Homo sapiens: one gene and its partner. The protein of the gene in region 1 interacts with the protein of each later gene in a pairwise test. Each region holds a gene or a part of one and is shown on either strand. Other genes may lie near its edges.

Region 1 (7,020 bases):
TCAACCACACCAAAACTGGGGCTGGGAATTTTTTCACACCCTCCTGAACTGTTCAAGCTATTTGTTTTGAGACAGGGTCTTGCTCAGTCACCCAAGTGCAGGGGCACGATCATGGCTCACTGCAGCCTCAACCTGCTGGACTCAAGTGACCCTCTCACCTCAGCCTGCCAAGTAGTATGAGCCACTGCAGTTGACCTAGCTGGGTCTTAAAAGAACTAGAATTAAAATCTGGACATTAATAGTCTTGGTCTTTTAGGATATCACTTTTATGACATTAAAAATGTTGGGGGAGCCAGGGGCGGTGGCTCACGCCTGTAATCCCAGCATTTTGGGAGGCCAAGGCAGGCGGATTGCCTGAGGTCAGGAGTTTGAGACCAGCCTGACCAACATGGTGAAACCCCATCTCTACTAAAAATACAAAAATTAGCCAGGCATGGTGGCACGCACCTGCAATCCCCAGCTACTCGGGAGGCTGAGGCAGGAGAATTGCTTCAACCCAGGAGGCGGAGACTGCAGTAAGCCGAGATCACACCACTGCACTTCAACCTGGGCAACAGAGTGAGACTCTGTCTCACAAAAAAAAAAAAAAAGGCCGGGAGCAGTGGCTCATATCTGTAATCCCAGCACTTTGGGAGGCGGAGACGGGCGGATCACGAGGTCAGGAGTTCGAGACCAGCCTGCCCAGCATGGTGAAACCCTGTCTCTGCTAAAAATACAAAAAATTAGCTGGGCATGGTGGTGCGTGCCTGTAGTCCCAGCTACTCAAGAGGCTGAAGCAGAACTGCTTGAACCCGGCAGGTGGAGGTTGCAGTGAGCCAAGATTGCACCACTACATCCCAGCCTGGGCGACAGAGCCAGACTCCATCTCAAAAAAAAAAAAAAAAAAAAAAAAGGGGGCCAGGCACGGTAGCTCACACCTGTAATCCCACCACTTTGAGAGGCCAAGGTGGGCGGATCACGAGGTCAAGAGATTGAGACCATCCTAGCTAACACGGTGAAACTCCGTCTCTACTAAAAATACAAAAAATTTGCCAGCCGTGGTGTCACGCGCCTGTCATTGTAGTCCCAGCTACTCGGGAGGCTGAGGCAGGAGAATCGCTTGAACTGGGGAGGCGGAGGTTGCAGTGAGCTGAGATCACACCACTGCACTCCAGCCTGGGTGACAGAGTGAGACTCTGTCTCCAAACAAACAAACCAAAAAAAAACAAAAAACACAAAAAGGAGCCAGGTACAGTGGCTCACACCTGTAATTCCAGCACTTTGAGAGGCCAAGGATCACTTGAGCCCAGGAGTTTGTGACCAGCCTGGGCAACATAGTGAGACCTAGTCTCTACAAATAATAAAAAATTAGCTGGGTGTGGTGGTGTGTGCCTTTGTCCCAGCTACTCCAGAGGCTGAGGTGGGAGGATCGCTTGAGTACAGGAGGTCAAGACTGCAGTGAGCCGTGATCACGCTACTGCACTCCAGATTGGACAACAAAGTAAAACCCTGTTTCCAAAAAAAAAAACCTTGGGGAAAGCATTTCTGGCAGCCCTGTAGGGCATCATGGTAACCCAATAAATAGACATTAATAAACATTCCCAAAACCATGTTAAGAAAATGTAAAGTTTATTAAATAAAGATTTTAAGTTTACTACTGCCTCATTTATTTCCTGCCCAGAGTACTGACCTACTATATGTGAAAATCTCTAGCTAATAATTAACAACGTCTGAGTTACAACACAATATGTAATTTGGGTTAATTATCATGACCTATTTACACACACCAAAAATCCTGCTCACTCTTGACCTGCACCTGTGCTAAATTCAAGGCAAATCACTAGTTCAAAAAATACATCTTTAAAGAGTGCCTGTGTCTGGATGGAGCCTTCCTGGTCTTGTACAAAATACCCGGGAGTAAGAACTTTCAGCTATACCCCAAGTTGCTCCCATCTATTAGTGCAATGCTTGTAATTCACAATTCTATGCACAGCTACTGTGTCCCTACCAGTGGGTGCTCCTTTAGGCTGGTTCACCCGGTATCCAAGCCATTACAAGATGGGAGAGGGTGAAATGTAAACCCTAGCAGACCAAGCAGTAAAAAGATGAACGGCTTTGGAAATGACAGGGTGAGTGGGAGGAAAAAGTACAGAGAAAGAGGAGTTCCAAAGCAAAGTGACCACAGAATATATATTTCTCAAACTGCTTGAACTCCCAATAAAATGACTTGGAGCAGTGATGGAAGAAAGACTCCATCCCAGAGAACTGGGCAAGCACTCAGCGTCCTACATTTTTCATGCCAAAAATCTCGTTTTTACTATATTATTTCTTCCAAGAAGCCCTACCTTTAACTGAAAAAGGGATACAGAGGACACCTACTTTCTTCTACTTGGGGACTTTACTCGGTTGTGGAACAATGAACTAGACAGACACTACTTAGCTATGATCTTCATCCTTTTTCTTAGTGAGCAATTTTTGTACAGTCTGATTCAGCAAAACAGAAAACAAAACAATTCAAAGGACCCTGCTCTGGCATCCACTATCTCCGCACAGCCGGGCGCGTGGCGCACCGCAAGGCTCTCTGCACTTTCTTCCTCCCCACGCCTCTCCCTGTATTTGTTCTCAGAGCTCTCAAATGGTCAAATGAGCTTGCTCAAAACCAACTTACCACTATATCAAAATCTGTTCCTGTCTTTGTTGGAATAGGAGTTCAATCTTCCCCAGTACTGGCTGTACTTGAAACTTGCTCTCCACAATCAAAATTTGCCCAATTCCTGATTATCAGCCAGAAAGCTGCTTTATTTGCAACTAAAATATACCTTTAACTTTATATGGACAACCTAAAATTCTGGCTCTAGCTGTGTGTGAGGGGGGACATACAGAGGTGAGAACAGGCCTTCTTTGGTCCCACACCCTCCACCCTCCAATATCCTTACCTCTTGGGCAGGTGAGCGAAGGGGTCCTTGGCCTTGGGCTCAGCAGCCAGCGCCTGCTCACATTCATCCATCTCCTCCTCAGGAGCAGGGGCAGCCGCCTTTTTCTCCTCCTTCCGCTCAGCCTGGGGCTTCTGCTTCTCTTCCCGTGAACCCTTCTCTTTCCGTGGTGTGTCCTTTTTAGGTTGGGTCTCTGCAAACTTTTTAGCTGGTGCAGAGGAAGGCAGGAAAGTGAACGAATGTTCTGCCTCTTTCCACACCCCTCCAAAACCACACAGAGCAAGCAAGGTAACAGAGGAAACTGACGAATGGGACAAGTAAGGAACTTAGGCCCCAGACTGCTCATCAGTTCACTGTGTGTCCTCCAGCAACAACACACTCAGCAACAAATACTTTATATCGCAAATCTATATAGTAATACAAATTAGTCAGGGTATGAGTGTACACGAAACTGCACATAATATTAGCTACCACATTGACACCCTACATTCTGCAGGTCCCCATAACCCAAAAGCAAGACAGGAAATCAAGGGGTTGATGCAGAGCAAACCAGACCCTGATCCTGGCCATATGCCTCCCAGTCTCCTCAGACTCACCATCAAACTGGGCCATCTTCTCACACAGTTTCACTTCGCCCAAGACAGCCCGGAACTGGGGCTGGTTAATGCAGGTGAGGAACCAGCGGTTGGTATTGGGAAAGGCCTGGCGGAAAGAAGGCTCTAGAACCTGCCAGGACATAAGGGTGTAAACAAAGTCAGTGGAAAGGCCCTGAAGAGTTCTGTTCACAGCAAGAGTCCTTGCTCTACCTAAGTCCCAGTGCTCACCTTCTTTTCAAACCCTATAGACAATAGCTTCATACAACATCATCCTTCCCTGGATTACTTCCCATTTCTTCATTTTTTTCAATTTTTTTTTTTTTTGAGACAGAGTCTCACTCTATCGCTCAGGCTGGGGTGCAATGGCGTGATCTCAGCTCACTGCAGCCTCCATCTCCTGGGTTCAAGTGATTCTCGTGCCTCAGCCTCCCATGCCTTAGCCTTCTGAGTAGCTGGGACTACAGGTGCCTGCCACCACACCCAGCTAATTTTTGTACTTTTAGTAGAGATGGGGTTTCGCCCTGTTGGCCAGGCTGTTCTCGAACTCTGACCTCAAGTGATCCGCCCACCTCGGCCTCCCAAACTGCTGGGATCTCCGAGGCGGGCGGATCACGAGGTCAGGAGATCGAGACCATCCTGGCTAACACGGTGAACCCCCATCTCTCCTAAAAATAAAAAAATTAGCTGGGCGTGATGGCGGGCAGCTGTAGTCCCAGCTACTCGGGACGCTAAGGCAGGAGAATGGCGTGAACCCGGGAGGCGGAGCTTGCAGTGAGCGGAGATCGCGGCACTGCATTCCAGCCTGGGTGACAGAGTGACTCTGTCTCAAAAAAAAAAAAATTAGCTGGGCGTGGTGGCACGTGCCTGTAGTCCCAGCTACTCCAGAGGCTGAGGCAGGAGACTCACTTAAACCCAGGAGGTGGAGGTTGCAGTGAACCGAGATCACGCCACTGCACTCCAGCTTGGGTGACAGAGTGAGACTCTGTCTCAAAAAAAAAAAAAAAAAAAAAAAATTTTAATAGAGATGGGGTCTCACTATGTTGCCCAGGCTTATCTTGAACTCGCATGCTCAAGCAATCCTCCTGCCCTGGCCTCCTAAAGTGCTGGGATTACCCGTGAGCCACCACACCTGGCCTCCATTTCTTTTTCTAATCTTTTTTTTCAGTGTAGTCCAGTTTAATGGATGGATGCTTGGGTCCATCCTCCATTTAGGAGTAGGAGTAATAATTGTCTTGCTCCTTTACAAAACTATTTCAGATCTACTGTTTCCAATCTTTTAAATTTCAAACGTCGGCCAGGAGCGGTGGCTCACGCCTATAATCCCAGCACTTTGGGAGGCCGAGGCGGGCAGATAACCTGAGGTCAGGAGTTCGAGACCAGCCTGGCAAACATGGTGAAACCCCGCCTCTCCTAAAAATACAAAAATCAGCCAGGCATGGTTGCACATGCCCGTAATCCCAGCTACTCAGGAGGCTGAGGCAAGAGAATCACTTGAACCCGGGAGGCAGAAGTTGCAGTGAGCCGAGATCGCGCCATCGCACTCCAGCCTGGGGGACAAGAGCGAGACTTCGTCTCAAAAAAAAAAAAAGATTGAGACCCACAGAGGGCTATCGAGGACTTTTTTGCCAAATAAAATCTAAACACTATAGGTATTTACTATCTATATTGGCCATACTATACACACACGCACACACACACACACACCCCCCACACCCACCCATCCATCAAACTTCAGAAAGTAAAGAACATTCAAAGAAAATATTCAAACGCATTTAGAATAATGGACAGTCCTGGCTGGGTGTGGTGGCTCACCCCCGCAATCCCAGCACTTGGGAGGCCGAGGCGGGTGGATCACCTGAGGTCCTCAGGAGATCAAGACCAGTCTGACCAACATGGCAAAACCCCATCTCTGCTAAAAATACAAAATTAGACGGGTTTGGTGGCGCATGCCTGTAATCCCAGCTACTTGGGAGGCTGAGGCAGGAGAATCGCTTGAACCTGGGAGGTGGAGGTTGCAATGAGCCAAGATCGTGCCACTGCACTCCAGCCTGGGTGACAGAGCAAGACTCTGTCAAAATAAATACATAAATAAATAAATAATGGACAGTCCTTCAAATTAAACTTAGTGTCTGGTGTATTAAGCATGGTCAAAGAAAAATAAGAATAAACAGCTTCAGGTAGAACTGTTGTCAGTTTTCAGTTTGCAAAGCTTCAGGTAGAACTGTTGTCATTTTTTAGTTTGCAAAGACCAGAAGAGGAAAAAAAATCTTGTCATGGAAACAGAACACAGCAGTCAGAGTGCTGGTTCCACAGTACTTGGGTTCAAATTCTACTCTACCACTTAGTAGATTCACTCACTAAGATGATCCCCATGAGGCCCCTGGCACAGGGTCTGGCATGCAGTAAGTGTTTTTTCTTTTGCTATGATCACATTACTATTCTGGACCAGCATCAGTCCAAGAGCTTTTATTTGGAAACCAGTGACTTGTCATTCTTTTTTGACCCAATAACCTTGACAGTGATTATTACTACCCTGATTTTATAGATTGCAAAGAGTAAAAAACAGGACTAAAGGAATTCACCCGCATATAACCCCTTACCTACATTGGTAAACAATGAAGCCAAGGCTTGAACCTGTATCTGTCTCCAAAAGAGCTTAAAGAGCTTTTTTTTTTTTTTTGAGATGGAGTCTCGCTCTTGTCCCCCAGGCTGGAGCACAGTAGCTGGATCTTGGCTCACTGCTACCTCCACCTCCTGGGTTCAAGCCATTCTCCTGCCTCAGCCTCCCAAGTAGCTGGGATTACAGGCTCCTACCACCACGCCCGGCTAATTTTCGTATTTTTAATAGAGACAGGGTTTCGCCATGCTGGCCAGGATGGTCTCGAACTCCTGACCTCAAGTGATCCACCCGCCTAGGCCTCCCAAAGTGCTGGGATTATAGGTGTTAGACACAGTGCCTGGCCTGCCTCCAAAAAGATCTTAATGCTGAAGCTACCATCATCACCTCTGTCTTCACAACTAAGAATAACCAATCTTCCCAGGAAATATGGCAACAAACTAAACATCTTAGCTGCCAAACAGAAACTAAAGGCAAGACATTACCCAGCTTCTTAAGAGAATGGAAAGCAAGTGATGGTACTCAGTCCTGGGATTCCTGGCTGTTTTTTGTTTGTTTTGACACGAAGTCTCACTCTCACCCAGGCTGGAGTGCAGTGGGGCGATCGCTGCTCACTGCAACCTCCACCTCCCAGATTCAAGTGATTCTTGTGCCTCAGCCTCCCAAGTAGCTGGGGCTATAGGTGTGCGCCACCACACCTGGCTAATTTTTTGTATTTTTAGTAGAGACAGGGTTTTACCATGTTGGCCAGGCTGGTCTCAAACTCCTGACCTCAGGTGATCTGCCTACCTCGGCCCCCCAGTGTGCTCGGATTACAGGCATGAGCCACTGCACCCACCTCTAGCTGTTTTCCAAGTCCTCAGCAGAATACAGGGTAACCTAGATACCTCGTCAC
Region 2 (7,154 bases), on another chromosome or scaffold:
GTATATACGTGTGTATATACACACGTATATACGTGTGTATATACACACATGTATATACACACATGTATATACGTGTGTATATACACACGTATATACGTGTATATATACACACATGTATATACGTGTATATATACACATATGTATATATGCGTATACACACATGTATGTATATATACACATACATACGTACATATACATATACATACATATGTATATATACACATATGTATATATATATGTATACACACATATGTATATATACATATATATACTGAGAAATATCCAGCAATGGAAGTTGTTACATACACACTTATTGAAAATCCTTTAGCTGTTAAAAATGGTAAATATAAATGCAATGTAGCAACATAAAAATCCTTATGTTATAATGCAAGATGATATAAAACACATATTTATATATATGCATAAAAATGTACACATATATATTCACAAATTCATACAACTGAAAATAATTCACATACCAGTTAAAGTTATATGCCATTTGATTCTGAAATAAATTTCCTTTAACCCTCTTACTCCACATTTTATAAAATGTGTCCAATATCTATACCAAGACTTTTTTTTTCAATTTCCTGGGCATATTTTTCTATGGTCACTTTTTTCACTTATGTTTTAAAATTATGAAAAACATCATACATACAAGAAAATTTATAATGTGTGTTTTCGGTTTAACATGTATCCATCAGGAATCAGAATTTTACTCAGTTGGTTTGATTAAAGAGATATTAGTGAAGACACTACTTAAAGGAGTATGACTAAGAGAACCATCCAGTTGAGTCATCCAGAGTCTAGCAACAGCAGGAAGACTGCGCTCTCTCTAGGCTACATAGCAAAGGAGAAAAGTGTTTCCAGAGCCCATGGAGCTGGAGCCATGGAGAAGGGACTGCTTGCCAAGAGCTGCAATTGTGGAGAAACACAACCACCACCAGATACTCAGCCCCAAACAGAGAAAGAACAGAGAAAATATACCCTGATGTCTTTTTCCTCCTGCCTCCCATCTCCCTGAATGCCTCCCGCTGTCCAAACTCAAATGGAAACCAGCTGAGGAGAGCCCAGGTGGTGCCGTCCAAAGAGGTCAGCTTTGGGGTATAGAACAGGGCAGGGAAGTGAGGAGAATGAATATGATGGAAGGCAAACAGAAAACCTAGACAGTCTAATTGTTTTGTCACCCAGAATTTATTCTTTTCCTTTGCTCAGATGAAGAGCAGCTCATCCCTTACATATGAGAATGACAGAGTCTGACAAGATTTCTCCTCGACCAAACTTTAGTCAGGCTCCTCTAAGCCATCTCCTTGATTAGATATTGACCTTGGGCTGCAGTGTTCATCCTTGCAGAATCAGTGTTGGCAAGAATCCTGCTAAGTCAGTTTAGAGAGGATCTTCCCACCCTGAATGTTTGACCACTCTCAATATCTGATCAAATTCCTTACCCCCACCAGCCCCCAGGTGATGTCTGCTTACCCTGGCCTACCTTTAGCAAGAATCCTGTTAGGTCAGTTTAGCAAGGATTTCCCCTACCCTTGCTGTCTCTTCTTAGTAATTTTCCATCCACGGACCCCACCCCCATCCACACAACCTGCTCCTCGGCTATAAATCCCCACTTATCCTTACTGTATTCAGAATTGAGCCCAGTTCTTTACCAAGGTCTCTTTCCCCCTATTTCAAAAGTTGCTGAATAAAAATCTATTTTTACTGCTACAGCTATTGTCCAGCTTTGATTTTCCTTAACAAGCCTCATCAGCTGCCATATTGCCTTGAGGGGATGTCAGTTCAGGCACATTCTCACCCAGAAACTAAATTGTAATATTTATCTCCACCACTACTCTTTATGCAGGGTAATAGGAAAAGAGAGTCAGGGAAGAAGTAATTAACATTTTAAATGGAGAGCTACTATAATTCCTGCCTCTAGAGCTTGTTGCAAGGCTAAAATTAATAATCATAGCTTCCTACTCATTTACTTATGTATGTTTCCCCTGCCCTATGCCAACACCTAGGTAGATCAGGATTTTTTTATCTGGTATGCTTCAACACTTTAATTTCTTCATGATCTGAAATTTCTGCATTACTTCAGTTATCTGATAATCATTATTATGGCACACGGCAGTATTAAGAAGTGCCCAGTGAATCTCCAGGTGTCATGCATAGTTCTTCTTGCCCTCAATATATAGATGTAACCCAATTTCCTTTTGGTATTTGGGATGAATCATACCATTCTGTCACTGTGAGGAATCAAAGTGACCAGAGGGCAGTTTCAGCTTTCGAATCAATGAATTGAAATTCAATTCAATTCAGTGACGGGGTCTTCTAGTGGCAGCATTCCTTCCTTTGGATCTAGGCTTCCAAACACAATAAACCCAAGGTTGTAGAAATGGTGTGCTGGAATACTATGCAGCCATAAAAAATGATGAGTTCATGTCCTTTGTAGGGACGTGGATGAAGCTGGAAACCATCATTCTCAGCAAACTATCGCAAGGACAAAAAACCAAACACCGCATGTTCTCACTCATAGGTGGGAATTGAACAATGAGAACACTTGGACACAGGAAGGGGGACATCACACACCGGGGCCTGTTGTGGGGTGGGGGGAGGGGGGAGGGATAGCATTAGGAGATACACCTAATGTAAATGACAACTTAATGGGTGCAACACACCAACACGGCACATGTATACATAGGTAACAAACCTGCACGTTGTGCACATGTACCCTAGAGCTTAAAGTGTAAAAACAAACAAAAAAAAGAAATGGTGTGCTGGATATTTTCTATTTCTCCCTCCAGGCATTGTGCCTAGTAGGCTGACCTCTACAGACTACACAGACCTAGCTCCACTGTCTTCTGGCTTCCTGGTGGATCCAGCCAGCGGAAGACCCCAGCTGGATATCAGAGCTGGGAGAACAGAGAGGTGGGTCTTCTCCACTCTGTCCCTGCTTTGGGCTGACGTCTCAGCACTGGCTACAACTATAGAATCTCACCTTACTTGGTGAAAAGTTGGCATTGCTTGCTTTCCTCTACTGAACGACACGGTTCCAGTTGGTTACTCTCTCGTACAGCCACAGCTACCGCTCTCGCTCTCGCCTGGTTTTAGTAACTGCTTCCTTCCCCCACCCCTCAGCCCTATAGTTACTAACAGCTCCCCGCTGTTACTGGTTACTACTGGTTACGGAAGGCGAACTATGTGCCCGACACTGTGCTAAATGCCCACATATATTATCTTTTAGTCCTCACAATCCAATAAATTAGATGGCTTTAGTCCTGTTGCAGAGGTGATAAATTCAGAGTGACAGTGACAGAGCTAGAAATTGAAGGTAGGTGTGTTTATGCTAGAGTCTGTGCACTCAAACACGATTCCTTACTTCTTGCATCAGTTGTTAACCTCCCTTCAAGAGTGTCAAACCTCCTGGTAACCCGCCCATTCCCTTAACTGGAAATGAGGGTGCTGTTGCAATTTTCTCATCCAGCCATTCCACAAATGGTATCTGGAATGTGGGACCCACAGTCCAGAATCCTGAGGGCTGCTGTTGAGAGCATCAAGACGCGCCCAGGAGGTCAGGGCGGTGTGCACTCACACGCTGAGCCTGGAGAAAGTTAGACGCCTTCTCCACCGCTGTGGTGGTTAGCAGGGACTTTCCTGAAGGCCAGAGACTGGTGACGTTCATGCTATTTTTCCAAGCCATTTGGTAGCAAAGAACAGAGTGCCAACAATTCAAGCATTCTCTCAGGCTGGGAGAGAGACGTGGCTTATTCAAGATAGAAATTGCTGGTGAGGTTGAGGCGAGACCGACATCTCTCTGAGCAGCAGGGGAGAAAGACGGCTCTGTTCAAAAAAGAATGGGTAATTTCAGTCAATTCTCTTCTTTCTCGTTTCTGTCTTATCTTTATGACTTTTTAATAGTGCCAATTTAACAGATGAGGGGACAGAGGCCTTTAATTGAGAATTCCACTCCGCTTCCTCTGCCTCATCTCAAAAATCTGGCAGCTGAGTCGCCGCGGCTTTGAATTTGCCTCTTTTGACCTTCCCCTCCCACCTCTGGTAACACTGAGCCTGGCCCGGAAGGACACACCCGGCTTCTGGCGGAAGTGCCGGCTCTTTAAAGAAGCTGAGGGCTGCGCGAATTGGCTGAGGTGCGTCATCTACTGTGTCTGGGCGCCAATCCCGACGCTGGGCGGAGCGAGGCCCGGTCCCTGCAGCGGGCGAAAGGAGCCCGGGCCTGGAGGTTTGCGTACCGGTCGCCTGGTCCCGGCACCAGCGCCGCCCAGTGAGTGAACACCGGCCGCAGGCGGGTGGGGAGAAGGGTCAGCCCGGCCATGTCAGTCAGCGCGATCTCCTGGGCTCCGGGCTTGCCAGGCAGCGCTGGGCGCCCGCTCCTCGTGAGCGCCGGCTCTTGGCTCTCGCACTGCCCCTGGTGCTGATAGGTATTGCCAACTTCGTTCCATTAGAGCGCGTTCTTGTCGCCTGGCGTGGACTCCGGATCTCTCCGTAGCTTTAAAATAGAGTTGAGAAAAACAGGCACAGTGCTCTCAACAGAAATCAGCACACTATTGCGGGGAATACCTAAATTACAGTAACTGGCCTCAGGGAGCAAGGGCGGTGTTAATTACAGAAAACCTCCGGAAGCTGTGGGCTCTGGGCTGGAATTTGCAAGGGGATGTGGCTTAATTTCAATGGGATGCAAATATTGAAAATGACTGTGGTGAGACGATCAGTCATACATTCAGGCAATGTGTCATCTGATCGGGAAATAAGTCAGCGTGGTAATCCCGATGACAGAATTCATGCAATTAATTTTTTATGTCCCCCCAAGTAAAATCAAATCTAGGTACTCACGGGTGACCGGAAGAAAGGTTGTCTGGAACTTGCAGGCACCACTTCTCCTCCCCAGAAATACACCTTCCCATAGTAATCTATAGCTCACCTGAGGCAGGGCTGAAGCATTAAAGACCCCTTCCAAGATCTCAGAAGGAATCAAAGGGAAAATGAAGACAGAGGGATTGAAATCAGCATTCTCTGCAAAACATCACTCTGAGACACAGTGATGTTTAAAATTGTATAAGTAGCAAGACATTTTTTTTTACCCCTGGTGAAAAGTGTTAGAATTTTTAAAAGACTTAACTTATACAAGTGAGTGAAATCAAAGTTATCCCTATTGCAAGGTCAATTTTGCTTATTTTCTGATACATATTTTGTGAGCAAGAGGAGATAGCTGAAAGTGTTCTGGACACCCTACGGAATATTCCCAGACTTTGGGAAATGACTTTGCCAGGAATGGGGAAGTTGGGAAAGGAAAGAATGTTGAAAATACTGAACTCCAGGGTGAAATTTACAAGGTGTGATGCATTTATTTATTCTCAGGTGTGGTTTCCCATAAGGAAGCTCTTCTTCCTGCTTGGCTTCCACCTTTAACCCTTCCACCTGGGAGCGTCCTCTAACACATTCAGACTACAAGTCCAGACCCAGGAGAGCAAGGCCCAGAAAGAGGTAAATCTAAATACTAACTTCCCAGACAGTGTTTCTTTCCCAGATGATTGACATGAGGACTCTCTCTTTTCAGGGGAGATCCTAACCCCTTACAAACAGGAGCACTTGAAAGCACACAGCTCTGTGATATACAGGGTATGTGGAGGAATAGTACTAGAGTACAGTTGTTTTCTTTATAAATGTTTGCAGCAGGTGTAAAAATTTAGTCATCCACTCCTATGTTCAGAAGAAAAATAAGTAATGGCAAGTGGCCTGAGCCACAGTTTTTCTTGTATCTCTCATGCTTTGTGCAAATATTTAGGGGAAGTAGACACCATGGAGACTATCAAGATGGATAATATCTCGCTCCTAACCTCAGGCAGGTTCTGGTCTGCTGTTAGAGATGAGTCGCATGGGACTGTTAGGGTTTGGAGAAAGGAAAGAACTGCCAAATCACCCTGCTGTCAGTGAGTGGCCTCTAACTCTGGTCACAGGGTGCTCGAGTGGCACAGTGGCAGAAGGGGAGGGAAATCTCACCACCTCAGGCCTTTTCAGCATTGTGCCTCTTCATCCTGGTAAGTGGTTTGGTATCCTGTGCTCAGCTTTGAAGCTGACTCTGGCACAGAGCCCTGAAACTCCAGGTGTATCCTTGATCAGAATACAAGGAAGTCACTGAAGTCTTGCTTGCAGCTCCCACTCACCTGGAACCCCATTAGCTGGGCTTCCCACAGAATACTTGGGAATCCTGGCTGTAATGAATTAAGACTGGCCATTCTTACCTGAGGTTCACAACCCTACTCAACAGCCTATTAAAGAGAAAAGGTATCAGCAACATTGTTGAGAAGGGTAGAGCAGTTGTAACTTTCCCCTGAGTTTTGCAGTATTCTGAAATGCAACCAACTAACTCAAGGTCTTCTGTACCCACCCAGTTGGATTAAGAATAAAAATTGGAGTTCTGTCCCTTGTAGAGTTGACAGCCCACTTAAAAACTTACATAAGATAGACACTACTGTGCATTCATCTAAAAAGTACATTTTCCAGGACATTCAAGTATCTGTATGTTTTTCCATTTTTGAGAACTTTAGTACATGCTATCTTGGAGAGAATGAGAGTGAAGCTGGAGGAGGATGGCTAAGGCAGTTAGCAGTGGGTGGATGGAAATAAGGGGCATGTAGGAGAGGGACAGGGATTGTGGTGGGATGACAGGAAGAATAACTGGTCTACTGACCTTGAGACAGCTCAATCTTCTTCTTTTTTTTTTTTTTTTTAGTATTTATTGATCATTCTTGGGTGTTTCTTAGAGAGGGGGATGTGGCAGGGTCATAGGATAATAGTGGAGAGAAGGTCAGCAGATAAACACAAGAACAAAGGTCTCTGGTTTTCCTAGGCAGAGGTCCCTGCGGCCTTTGGCCCTGTTTGTGTCCCTGGGTACTTGAGATTAGGGAGTGGTGGTGACTCTTAACGAGCATGCTGTCTTCAAGCATCTGTTTAACAAAGCACATCTTGCACCACCCTTAATCCATTTAACCCTGAGTTGACACAGCACATGTTTCAGAGAGCAGGGGGTTGGGGGTAAGGTTATAGATTAACAGCATCCCAAGGCAGAAGAATTTTTCTTAGTACAGAACAAAATGGAGTCTCCTATGTCTACTTCTTTCTACACAGACACAGTAACAATCTGA

Evidence for each region. Proteins that work in one complex are often made in the same cells at the same time.
Region 2: the proteins of EEF1G (region 1) and PLGRKT interact in binary tests that used the Homo sapiens proteins (3 or more experiments, as listed by UniProt).

What each region holds. Positions count from the first base shown.
Region 1 is NC_000011.10:62,563,891-62,570,910, forward strand, and holds part of EEF1G (elongation factor 1-gamma), read right to left. Parts: intron 3,639-7,020; coding exon 3,509-3,638; intron 3,182-3,508; exon of another isoform or gene 3,121-3,181; coding exon 2,916-3,120; intron 1-2,915. UniProt on the Homo sapiens protein: Probably plays a role in anchoring the complex to other cellular components.
Region 2 is NC_000009.12:5,434,908-5,442,061, reverse strand, and holds the start of PLGRKT (plasminogen receptor (KT)), read left to right. Parts: upstream 1-4,136; 5' UTR 4,137-4,273; exon of another isoform or gene 4,274-4,430; intron 4,431-5,367; 5' UTR 5,368-5,493; intron 5,494-7,154. UniProt on the Homo sapiens protein: Receptor for plasminogen. Regulates urokinase plasminogen activator-dependent and stimulates tissue-type plasminogen activator-dependent cell surface plasminogen activation.